Homo sapiens: one gene and its partners. The protein of the gene in region 1 purifies or fractionates together with the protein of each later gene. This does not show direct contact. Each region holds a gene or a part of one and is shown on either strand. Other genes may lie near its edges. The genes, in order: PDK3, UBR7 and ACAP2.

Evidence for each region.
Region 2: the proteins of PDK3 (region 1) and UBR7 purify together in Homo sapiens (affinity purification with mass spectrometry; one large-scale study listed by BioGRID and IntAct). This does not show direct contact.
Region 3: the proteins of PDK3 (region 1) and ACAP2 purify together in Homo sapiens (affinity purification with mass spectrometry; one large-scale study listed by BioGRID and IntAct). This does not show direct contact.

What each region holds. Positions count from the first base shown.
Region 1 is NC_000023.11:24,531,185-24,535,007, forward strand, and holds the end of PDK3 (pyruvate dehydrogenase kinase, isozyme 3 isoform 2 precursor), read left to right. Parts: intron 1-472; coding exon 473-586; intron 587-2,744; coding exon 2,745-2,888; 3' UTR 2,889-3,238; downstream 3,239-3,823. UniProt on the Homo sapiens protein: Inhibits pyruvate dehydrogenase activity by phosphorylation of the E1 subunit PDHA1, and thereby regulates glucose metabolism and aerobic respiration. Can also phosphorylate PDHA2.
Region 2 is NC_000014.9:93,220,756-93,224,255, forward strand, and holds part of UBR7 (putative E3 ubiquitin-protein ligase UBR7), read left to right. Parts: intron 1-1,557; coding exon 1,558-1,619; intron 1,620-2,793; exon of another isoform or gene 2,794-3,420; intron 3,421-3,500. UniProt on the Homo sapiens protein: E3 ubiquitin-protein ligase which is a component of the N-end rule pathway. Recognizes and binds to proteins bearing specific N-terminal residues that are destabilizing according to the N-end rule, leading to their ubiquitination and subsequent degradation.
Region 3 is NC_000003.12:195,440,741-195,444,563, reverse strand, and holds the start of ACAP2 (arf-GAP with coiled-coil, ANK repeat and PH domain-containing protein 2), read left to right. Parts: upstream 1-1,543; 5' UTR 1,544-1,716; coding exon 1,717-1,769; intron 1,770-2,287; exon of another isoform or gene 2,288-2,414; intron 2,415-3,823. UniProt on the Homo sapiens protein: GTPase-activating protein (GAP) for ADP ribosylation factor 6 (ARF6). Doesn't show GAP activity for RAB35.

The DNA of each region.
Region 1 (3,823 bases):
CCTCCTGAGTAGCTGGGACTACAGTCTCCCACCACCTCGCCCAGCTAATTTTTGTAGTAGAGATGGGGTTTCGCCATGTTGGCCAGGCTGATCATGAATTCCTGACCTCAAGTGATCCACCTGCCTCAGCCTCCCAAAGTGCTGGGATTACAGGCGTGAGCCACTGTGCCCGGCCTTGGAATGTGCTTTTAAAAAAATGATAAAATTTTGCTTTAAAATGCTAAAAAAGCATTAGTCAAAAATTAGAATATTTCTATTATTATCCAAACATATAAGACATGTTTTTGCAGGGTGAAAATAAAGGGGTTGTTTGCCATAGAAGAGGATATACATCATTGTAAAGGTTGAGTCAGTAATTTATTTGATTTAAATCTGAATCAAGAATTTATTTTAACCTTCTCTGAATGGTCATCATATAAAATGTGTTAGCATTTGTGCCTGTCTCACTGTATTAATTTTCTTTTCTCAATAGGCTGGATTTGGTTATGGTTTGCCAATTTCCCGTCTGTATGCTAGATATTTTCAAGGAGATCTGAAACTGTATTCCATGGAAGGAGTGGGTACTGATGCTGTCATTTATTTGAAGGTACTGCGTTTTATTTGTTAGTATGAGGCATCTTTGCTTTTTAAAGCTGTAAGTTCTAATCGCTGATTGAGAACAGCACTGTATCATCTCTTAGATTCATCTCAGATTTACTTCATTTTCCCATGAAAACCATGTTATGCCTCACGCTTGATTCTATGCTCAGATAAAGCAAAATATGAAACGTGGAGGTATAGAAATTAAAATACTGATTTTGGCCGGGCGTGGTGGCACATGCCTGTAATCTCAGGACTTTGGGAGGCTGAGGTGGGTGGATCACCTGAGGTCAGGAGTTCGAGACCAGCCTGGCCAACATGGTGAAACCCCATGTCTACTAAAAGTACAAAAAATTAGCTGATGTGGTGGTGCACGCCTGTAGTCCCAGCTACTCAGGAGGCTGAGGCAGGAGAGTCATTTGAACCCGGGAGGCAGAGGTTGCAGTGAGCCAAGATGGTGCCACTGCACTCCAGCCTGGGCGACAGAATGAGACTCCATCTCAAAAGAGAAAAAAAAAAATTAAAATACTGATTTTTAAAACCATAATTTTAAATTGTGACTTAAAAAACTACATGCCTATTGAAAGGTCTGATCTAAAAGAAGGCAGATTTTCATAAACTGAAGTATTTTGGTCTTTTGTTTTAAAAACTCACTGGCTTTCCCAAAGCTACAAGAATTCAGTAATCATAATATGGTTATGTAAAAGATTCATTTAATAACAAACTTCTCTGTAACACAGTTTTTCTTATTCATTGGTGATCATTGGGCTTTTATTTCTAAACTCTAGAATATTTGTAACATTTTTTTGAATAGGTAATATAGGCACATAATAAAAATTTAAAAGCTACAAAAGGAAAAATGAAGTCTCTCCTCCCACTGGCCCTAAACCGCCAGTTCTGTTCAGCGAAGATCACCACCGGTCTCAGCGTCTTATGGATCCTCCTAGAGTTGATTCTACATTTATAAATATGGGAAAAATAGAATTTTTCCCACATAAATGAAATTTCAGCACCTTCTTATTTTTTTTACTTTGCAATCTGTCTTAGAGATCTTTCCAGATCCATTTATGTAGAACTGGCTCATTCTTTTAAACAGTGGCATAACATGCCACTGTGGGTCAAGCATCCCTAACCCAAGAATCTGCAATCCAAAATGGTTGAAAATCTGGAACTTTTTGAGCGCCAACGTGATGCTTGCTCAAAGGTCAAGCTTAAAGGAAATGCTTATTGGAGCACCCCAGATTTCAGATTTTCAGATTAGGGATGCTTAACAGGTAAGCACAATGCAAATATTCCAAAATCGGAAAAAATCAGAACTACTTCTGGTCCCAAGCATTTCTTTCTTTCTTTTCTTTTTTTTTGTTTCTTTCTTTTTCTTTTTTTTTTTTTTTGAGATAGAGTCTCACTCTGTCACCCAGGCTGGAGTGCAGTACTGCCATCTCGGCTCACTGCAACCTCTGCCTCCTGGGTTCAAGCCATGCTCCTGCCTCAGCCTCCTGAGTAGCTGGGATTACAGGTGTGAGCCACCACACCCGGCTAATTTTTTGTATTTTTAGTAGAGACAGGGTTTCACCATGTTGGCCAGGCTGGTCTCGAACTCCTGACCTCAGGTGATCCACCTGCCTCAGCCTCCCAAAGTGCTGGGATTACAGGTGTGAGCCACTGTGCCCGGCCTGTTCCCAGGCATTTCAAAGGGATACTCAACCTATGTATGTGATACCAGAATTTAACCAGTTACTGGGAGTATTTATCTTAGATGCCCATGCATCTAAGTAATGCGATATTTAATATACTTGATGGTGTGTGTTTATAAACCTGGGATGCATGAGACTGTATCTCTTCCTGGGCCCTTTGTGAGACCAGTCACCAGGTATAGTCAAAACAGTTGAGCATCTCAAAGCAGTATGAGCTGAATTAAAATATGTTTTGTTCTGGTCATGTGTATTTCAGTTCTGATTTTGAATGAGCAAATGTTTTCATTCCTTTAAAAAAGCTTTAATGTTTTCCTGGCCAGTCTAAGTAAACTACTAAGGTGTAATTTTAATATCATTTTGAAAATATGTATTAAGGTTTCTGATGTTTTAAATAATAAAATTTGGGTTACTATTTCACTTGAGAAAAATGACACTGTCGACCTTTGGTGTATATTTTTGTTTCTCCAATAGGCTCTTTCAAGTGAGTCATTTGAGAGACTTCCAGTTTTTAATAAGTCCGCATGGCGCCATTACAAGACCACGCCTGAAGCCGATGATTGGAGCAATCCCAGCAGTGAACCCAGGGATGCTTCAAAATACAAAGCAAAACAGTAATATACCACCTTGATTTCCATTACAAAGTATCTGATTTGTCTGAATAAAGGTGTCCCACTCACTGTTCCAGGAATTCTTGCAGTGTAGAGGTATTCACAACAGCAAGCAGGGATTTGGCCTGCCATCAATTTTATTTAAAAAGCAATTAAGTTTGCAGTTTGTCCTCATAAACGTTGTAGGTTGAAACTGAAAAATAAGTTAAAATGATCAATCAAGATAAAAGGTGATCTATCCATCCAATGGAATATTATTTGGCCTTAAAAAGGAAGGACATTCTGATATGTGCTGCAACATGGGTGAATCTTGAAGTCATTATGCTAAGTGAAATAAACCAGACATAAAAGGACAAATACTATGATTCCACTTATGTGAAGTACCTAGAGTAGTCAAATGCAGAGACACAAAGTGGAAGGGAGGTTGCCAGGGGCTAGCGACGAAGATGGAATGGGGAGGCATTGTTTCATGGGTACAAAGTTTCAGGTGGAAAGATGAAAAACTTCTGGAGATGGATGGTGGTGATGCTTGCACAACAGCGTGAATGTACTCAATGCCACTGAACTGTACATGTAGCAATGGTTAAGATGGTAAGTTCTGGGCTGGGTGTGGTGGCTCACGCCTGTAATCCCAACACTTTGGGAGGCTGAGGCTGGATGATCTCTTGAAGCCAGGAGTTCAAGACCAGCCTAGGCAACATAGTGAGACCTCTGTCTCAGCAAAAAATTTAAAAAGGTAAAATTAGCCGTGTGTGGTGGTGTGGGTCTGTAGTCCTAGCTACTCAGGAAGCTGAGGCGGGAGGATCACTTGAGCCCAGGACTTCCAGGCTGTAGTGAGCTATGATTCGCACCACTGCACACCAGCCTGGGGGACAGAATAAGACCGTGTCTCAAATAAGAAAAAGGTGGTAAGTTCTATGTTATGTATAGCTTATCACAATA
Region 2 (3,500 bases), on another chromosome or scaffold:
CAGTGGTTCACAGGAAACCACTAGAGGAGAAAATACCCCCAAACCCTTGATTGAAGGCTTTTACATCCCCCCACCACCACCCAGCTGCAGCAGGCCAAACTTATTTCAGTGGTTTCTATCCCAGCCATTTCCACTTGGATGCCACCACTTTTATGTGACTTTTATAGCATCAGTCATTTCTGTCTTTTATTATTTATTTATTTATTTTGAGACAGGGTCTTGCTCTGTTGCCCAGGCTGGAGTGCAATGGTGCATTCTCAGCTCACTGCAACCTCTGCTGCCCAGGCTCAAGTGATTCTCCTGCCTCAGTCTCTCAAGTAGCTGTGACCACAGACGCATGCCACTGCGCCCCCCCAATTTTTTTTTTTTTTTTGAGATGGAGTCTCACTCTGTCACCCAGGCTGGAGTGCAGTGGCGCGATCTCGGCTCACTGCAACCTCTGCCTCCCAGGTTCAAGTGATTCTCCTGCCTCAGCCTCCCAAGTAGCTGGGATTACAGGCACCTGCCACCATGCTTGGCTAATTTACTTTGTATTTTTAGTAGAGACAAGGTTTTACCATGTTGGCCAAGCTGGTTTCGAACTTCTGACCTCAGGTGATCTACCTGCCTTGGCCTCCCAAAGTACTGGGATTACAGGCATGAGCCACCATGCCCAGTCCCCACTAATTTTTGTATTTTTAGTAGAGTCAGGGTTTCACCATGTCACCCAGGCTGGTCTCGAACTCCCGAGCTGAGGTGATCCACCTGCCTCAGCCTCCCAAAGTGCTGGGATTACAGGTGCAAGCCACTGCACCTGGCCGTGTCTTTTATTTATAATTATTAATTTCTTTTTGCCTTTATTAGAGTAAAAACTTTTCAAGGATAGAGGATGCACCTAAAAGATACTTGTAGCCCTCAAGGTACCTTGTACATAATATAAACTGTTAAGTGAGTCAGTTTGCTTGGGCTGGGCGCCATGGCTCACGCCTGTAATCCCAGCACTTTGGGAGGCCAAGGCAGGTGGATCACCTGAGGTCAGGAGTTCAAGACCAGCCTGGCTGACGTGGTGAAACCCTGTCTCTACTAAAAATATAAAAAAGTAGCCAGGCATGGTGGCGCGTGCCTGTAGTCCCAGCTACTCGGGAGGCGGAGGTTGCAGTGAGCCGAGATCGTGCCACTGCATTCCAGCCTGGGTGACAGAGTGAGACTCCATCTCAAAAAATAAAATAAATTAAATTAAATTAAATATTCAACAAGTCCAAGGTTATTTCAGCTACCAGAATTCCAGAGAAATAGGAAGCCCTTTTAAAAATTCTTAATCTTTATGGGATTAGGATATCTCTGCTTTTTATGCTTTTTAAAAAATTTTGCTTTTTTTTTTTTTAATGAAAAAGGGTCTCATATCAACATGGTAGACGTACAGATAATTTGGGAACGAGTTTCTATGCAGCTTTCACTTAAGAAAATTTTTATTTAGACTACATTATTAACAGACTCAGGTGTCAATGGCAAAGAATATTTTGTTTTTGAAAGCAAATGGTTTATCTAAACTTAAATACTTTTGTGGTTTTGATTTAGAATACAATGATTTGAAGACTGAACTTAAAGACTATCTCAAGAGATTTGCTGATGAAGGCACGGTATGTTGAGTTAAAGAATTCTAATCATAGCCCTGTAAGTTTTGAATGAAGGGTTTATTTCCTTTGACGATTAAAAATGACTGCGACTGGCGGGGTGCGGTGGCTCACACCTGTAATCCCAGTACTTTGGGAGGCCAATGTGGGTGGATCACAAGGTCAGGAGTTCAAGACCAGCCTAGCCAATATGGTGAAACCCCATCTCTACTAAAAATACGAAAATTAGCCAGGCGTGGTGATGGGCGCCTGTAGTCCCAGCTACTAGGGAGGCTGAGGCAGGAGACTCACTTGAACCCAGGAGGCGGAGGTTGTAGTGAGCCGAGAACACGCCACTGCACCCCAGCCTGGGCGACAGAGCAAGACCCTATTTCAAAAAAAAAAAAATGACTGCGACTTAAGTGGGTACTTGAGAGTTGAATTCAGGGACTGTTTTGAGCAAATTGGCAGGCTAAGGGGAATGAATAAGAGGTAGTGAAACATCAGAGTTACATTGGCAGTCCTTACCAACCCCAGCTAAGCCGGGAAGAATGATGGGAGGGCGCAGTCCCACAGCCTCTGAGAGAGTACTTGTAGCTTAGCAGAAGGTCATTGGAAGGAATCCGCAGTACTGATTCTGCTGGTCCTGACCTTGAAGCATGGATCTTTGGGACGGGGAGGGGAAAATGACTGGACAGGAAAAATTAACACCAGACCCAGTTTCTGGAATTCTAAGTTCCATGGTTTAGAATAGAAACTGGGCATGGTGGCCGGGTGCAGTGGCTCACGCCTTAATCCCAGCACTTTAGGAGGCTGAGGTGGGTGGATCACCTGAGGTCAGGAGTTCAAGACCAGCCTGGCCAACATGGTGAAACCTTGTCTCTACAAAAATACACAAATTAGCTGGGTATGAGGGCGGGTGCCTGTAATCCCAGCTACTCCGAGGCTGAGGCAGGAGAAACGCTTGAACCCCACAGGTGGAGGTTGCAGTGAGCCAAGATTGTGCTATTGCACTCCAGCCTGGGTGACAGAGCAAGACTCCATCTCAAAAAAAAAAAAAAAAAAAAGAACTGGGCATGGCGGCTTGTACCTGTAGTTTCAGCTACTTGGGAGGCTGGCTTGAGCCCTGCTTTCTTAGAAGATGTCATCTCTGTCTACCTACTTTAGGTCATTTTTTCCTTTTTTTTCTTTTTTGGGGTGGGGGGCGTTCCTGAGTTTATTTGGGGCACACCCGGGCGAGGGCCCTGCCCCTAGAAGAACGTGTTGGGCCTCTTGGTGGTGAAGCGTGGCTTGGGCTGACGGGCAGGACCCGGTGGGGCAGCGGGAAACTTGATCTTGGAGTCGTGGAACTGCTTGATGGCCGGCCGGCTGGCGGCACTTGCTGGCTGCGATCTCCTTCACCTTCAGGATCTCGATGGAATGGGCCCAGGTGCGGTGCCAGGCGCCCATAGACCTCTCGGTAGCACTGGGTAACAGCGCCCGCGGTGGTCAGGTCCCGGTATTCCCGGTACATGTTGGGGGCGCCGCTCCGGGAGTCATAGCTCAGCCAGATGCCGAAGTTCTTGACCCGCGGTGGGGACTTCTCAAACACCTGCCCACAGTAGACAATCTCCCCTGAAGACTTCTTCATCTTTTTTAACTGAGATACGAAGTACCAGAAGTCCCGGGACTTGGCGACAACGTGATTAGGCGCAAAGATTCGCATGTGGTAGAGGGGCGGTGTGTGGCATTTGGGGGTGGGCAGGCAGTGACCCACCACCTTGTACTCTCATAGTGTGCCCGAGGCCTTCATGGCGTCCTCTCCGCGCTCGCCACCACCCGCAAAAGGTTAGGTCGTTTTTTTCTTTGTCATAGATGTGGGAAGAACATTTAACTGCCTGAATTTCTGGACAGGGTCACAGTGCTGCC
Region 3 (3,823 bases), on another chromosome or scaffold:
CTATACTGTTAATTTCTAAAGATGCTAAAGAGATCAAGATATCTCTTGATGGGTTACGAAAAACAGTATGTCATCACGCTATACTTAGCCAGACGGTCAGAAAGTTATATTAAGACTTTAGAAGGCTGGGTGTGTGGCTCACACCTGTAATCTCAGCATTTTGGGAGGCTGAGACAGAAGGATCACTTGAGGCCATGAGTTTGAGACCAGCCTGGGGAACGGAACGAAATTGTTTGATTGTTTTTGAGACAAACAAAAACTTCAGACAGTGAAAGTGAGAGAACTTAGACTTAAGCCCTTTGATTATAGTACTGAAGAGGCAAATGGTACAATTAAAATAGCCAACATTTACTGAATGATCGATATGTGGCACTGTGTTAACCGGACAACTTCATCAGATCTGTGTGTTATGTTCATTTTAAAGTGAGAAAGCTGGGACCTAAATCCAGGAAGTTTGCCTCCAGATTCTCACTCAGAGCCACTATGCTGTTAGAACACCCTGTATATTCATTTTTATAGATACGCCCGTGTTTTTTAGGTTGGCTTAAAAATTACTCATTACATATAAGACATCTTTGTACTTTTTACAATCAATGGCATCTTAAAATGAAGGAGTATGGTAAATACCTGCCGTGAGGATCAGATGATAAGTATCTTAAAGTGCTTCTAGAAAAAGTGTGGATTAGAGGGGCAGGTGTTGCAAGGTGAGTACGATGAGCCTGGTCTTCAGAACCCCACCATGGCAGAACAGTGAAAACCACCAGGAGCAAAGTGTCAGTGAGGGGGAATGCTTTCGGCAGTTTTGAGAGGAGTTCCTCCACACGAAGCACCCTACCTCCCATACCTGCCTAAATCTTTCTATGTCCAACCCAAACGGCAGCTCCTTCAGGAAGTGGTCTCTGGCTATATGAGAAGATGTACATGGGAGCAATTTCCAGATTATGAAGCTATGGAACAAATACATGAAAGATGGATTTTATCACTAAAGTTATCCTCGCTCCTCTTCTGGCCTCAGTTTCTCTAAACTGAAAGGAATAGGTGGCTTAGCCTATCTCTTCCTTTTATAATTTCTGCCTCTAACCTCTTCAGATTTCTGCCAATCTGCTTTGAAAAGCAAATTTCCTTCCTCAGACCTGCAGGAGACTGCTCCTCTGGGCTGGCAGCTCAGCAGGGCGGGGCTCGGGGAGCAGGAGAAGAGGCGGGGGCTCGGAGGGAAGCGCGGCCGCAGCCACGTGACTTCCTTCCCAAGGAACCTCAGCTGCCGGCCTCCCAGCAACCGGTGCGTCCCGCCTAGCGACGCCCGCGCATCCCGGTTGGCCCTCGGGGGCGGTTGTGGCAAGGAGGTGCCCACGGTCGCGCTGCTCATTGGCTCGGGTTGCCGTCGCTCAGACCCGTTGCCCGGGCGCCCGCAGGCGGTGCTGCCGGATGCCCCGCCCCTTGGCCGCCAGGTTCGTGGCTGGCTGGCCGCTGCTGTCACTCCCCGGCCGTTTCCCTGCGGCCAGCGCTCTACTTGGGGCGGGAGGAAGAGGGGCGGGACTGGGGCCTGACTAGTCGTCGCCGTCTTCGCGGCTGCTATGACCAGCGGGCGAGGCGCCCTTCGCAGCTCCGCGCAACGCTAGTCGCGGCCGTGCGCCCGCCGTAGCCGTCTGCGTCCCAGCGCGGCCGCTCCCGCGGCCCCCTCGGCTTTGCCAGCGCCGCCTGCGAGGCGGAGGCAGGATGAAGATGACTGTGGATTTCGAGGAGTGTCTGAAGGACTCGCCCCGCTTCAGGTAACCGGCACGGCCGCCCGGCGTCACCGCGGAGCTGCCTTCCCGGCGCTGGGGGCGTGAAAGCCGGGCCCGCGCACCCGGAGGAGGCCCCGCCGTCCGCTCCTTCCGACGGGGCGAGCGGCTGTTGCCGCCGTTTCCCACCCTGCGAGGGCACTGCAGTCCCCACCGAGCCCTCCCGAGGGGCGACGAAGTGGCGGGGACGGGGACGTCGCCTCTCATTTCTTTCCTTGCCCTCTGCCGGGGCGGAGCGCCCCGAAGGCCGGCGCACCCTCTCCCGCTGGGGGAAATGGGGTGCAGCCGCGCTCCCGAAGTCCCGTCCCCTTCGCGGGCGCTCGCTCTCGCCCCCTTCCTCCTCTGGCTGCTCTTCCTTCCCCCTTCCTTCCGCCCCTTCTTGGTTTCCACCCCCTCCCCACCCCCTCTTTGAGGGAGCTTTCAGGGCATCCTCTTGCAGTTCATTTAGTTCCTCTTTGCGCTTTTCTGCCCCCCTTCCCCGGGGAGGAGAGAGTAGGGGGCGAACTGGGACGCCGACTTCTGCTTCGCGGTGCCCCCGGCCAGAGCGACTCTCCGGAGGGCGCCCGCGGTGGATGCGTGCGGGAATCGCGGGGGGAAGCGCTGTGATCAACCGCATTCCGTGGACCCTAGTTGGTGACTACCTGCTTTTCTTTCCACTTAAGCTCGTTGAAGGGGGCACAGCTGTCGAGAGGTACCGGGCTGAGGGCGGAGGACTAGCAGAAAAGTGCATTTCTGTTTTGAGAACGGAAGTAGGAGGGCCGTGAAGATTGCCTGTGTGTTCCTCTTCCAGCAGCCTCTGCCCAGGAGGGCCCGGATCACAGTCGGATGCTCCCAGTGGATCTGTCACAGAGTTGACATGGGGGCACTCCGATTCACATGGGTTGCCCTTCTTTCTATGTGAGAGGCGGTCGTCCTGAGGCCGTCCAGGACACAGGTTCTTTCTGTTTTGAGGATAGTAGGAAAGTCTTGAGTTGTTTTGGACAATGGAGTTTTTCTAGGTTGCGTTTTACAGTGTATTTATTTACAGGGCTGGTCATAGTCCTTACAAATATAAGGCCTTAACACTTCCGTTAGATAGTGACATTTCTTGAAGCTTCCTCTGAGCACTGGCGTGTGTGTGCCCGCTAATGTCTGGGCCAAGCCTGGATTGTAAATTGCATCCTCTGCCTGGGAACTAACTGTTCTCATCCTTAACACTGTTAATTGGATTTCTTATTCTCCTTTCAGCGAAAAAGAAAAGAATTGTAAAACTAAGGAACTGCTACTTAGAGAAAATTTAAGAACGCTTTTTGCGTTTGCCCTTTGATGATTTTTGGGTATTAATTTTATTGGAGCCTAGGGCTATTATTTAAAAAAACCCACTTCCTTTGATAGCTGTTGTTGCGATTCATTTTTGAAACTTTTATGTTCTGCATTATTGAAGGACTCAAGAGACACAAATAGATTTCCTAGGACAGGCGTGCAGGTTGGTTTCCAGGACAGCATGGCAAGTGGAGTAATTTTTAAAGTGCACCTTAGAAAGTTCAGCTTTTTGTGAAATTTTGTTACTATGACTCAGCTATTTATTTTTAAGTGAAATAATCACAGCATTTTTCCCTTAGAAGATGTAGCTTTGAACTCCCTTTGTTTCACATTAATTTTTTTTTTTTTTTAAGTTGAGAGAAGTGATTTGGAAATACTTCTAGCTACTGGGGTTGGTCACAAACCATGTGATGTCTTTGTTTTTGAAATAAAGAAATCATTGAATATAAAATAAGAGGGCAACATACTGATTAAGTTGTAGGGAATATTATAGTGAACTTTTGTTAAACTTGATTGTAACATAAATTCTATGTTAATTAAAATATTACAGGTTTTCAGGAGTTGTTTCCCATATTCCAATTATTGTTAGCTGCAAATTGGGAAGAGATGCCAAAATTTCAATAACTTCAACATCTTATATACATTTTGGGGACAAATTAGATTTGCAATAGAGGGAAGACTGCCGAGAAATAGAAGTTTCATTATTCATATTCTTAATTTTTTATAGTTTTTCCATAATC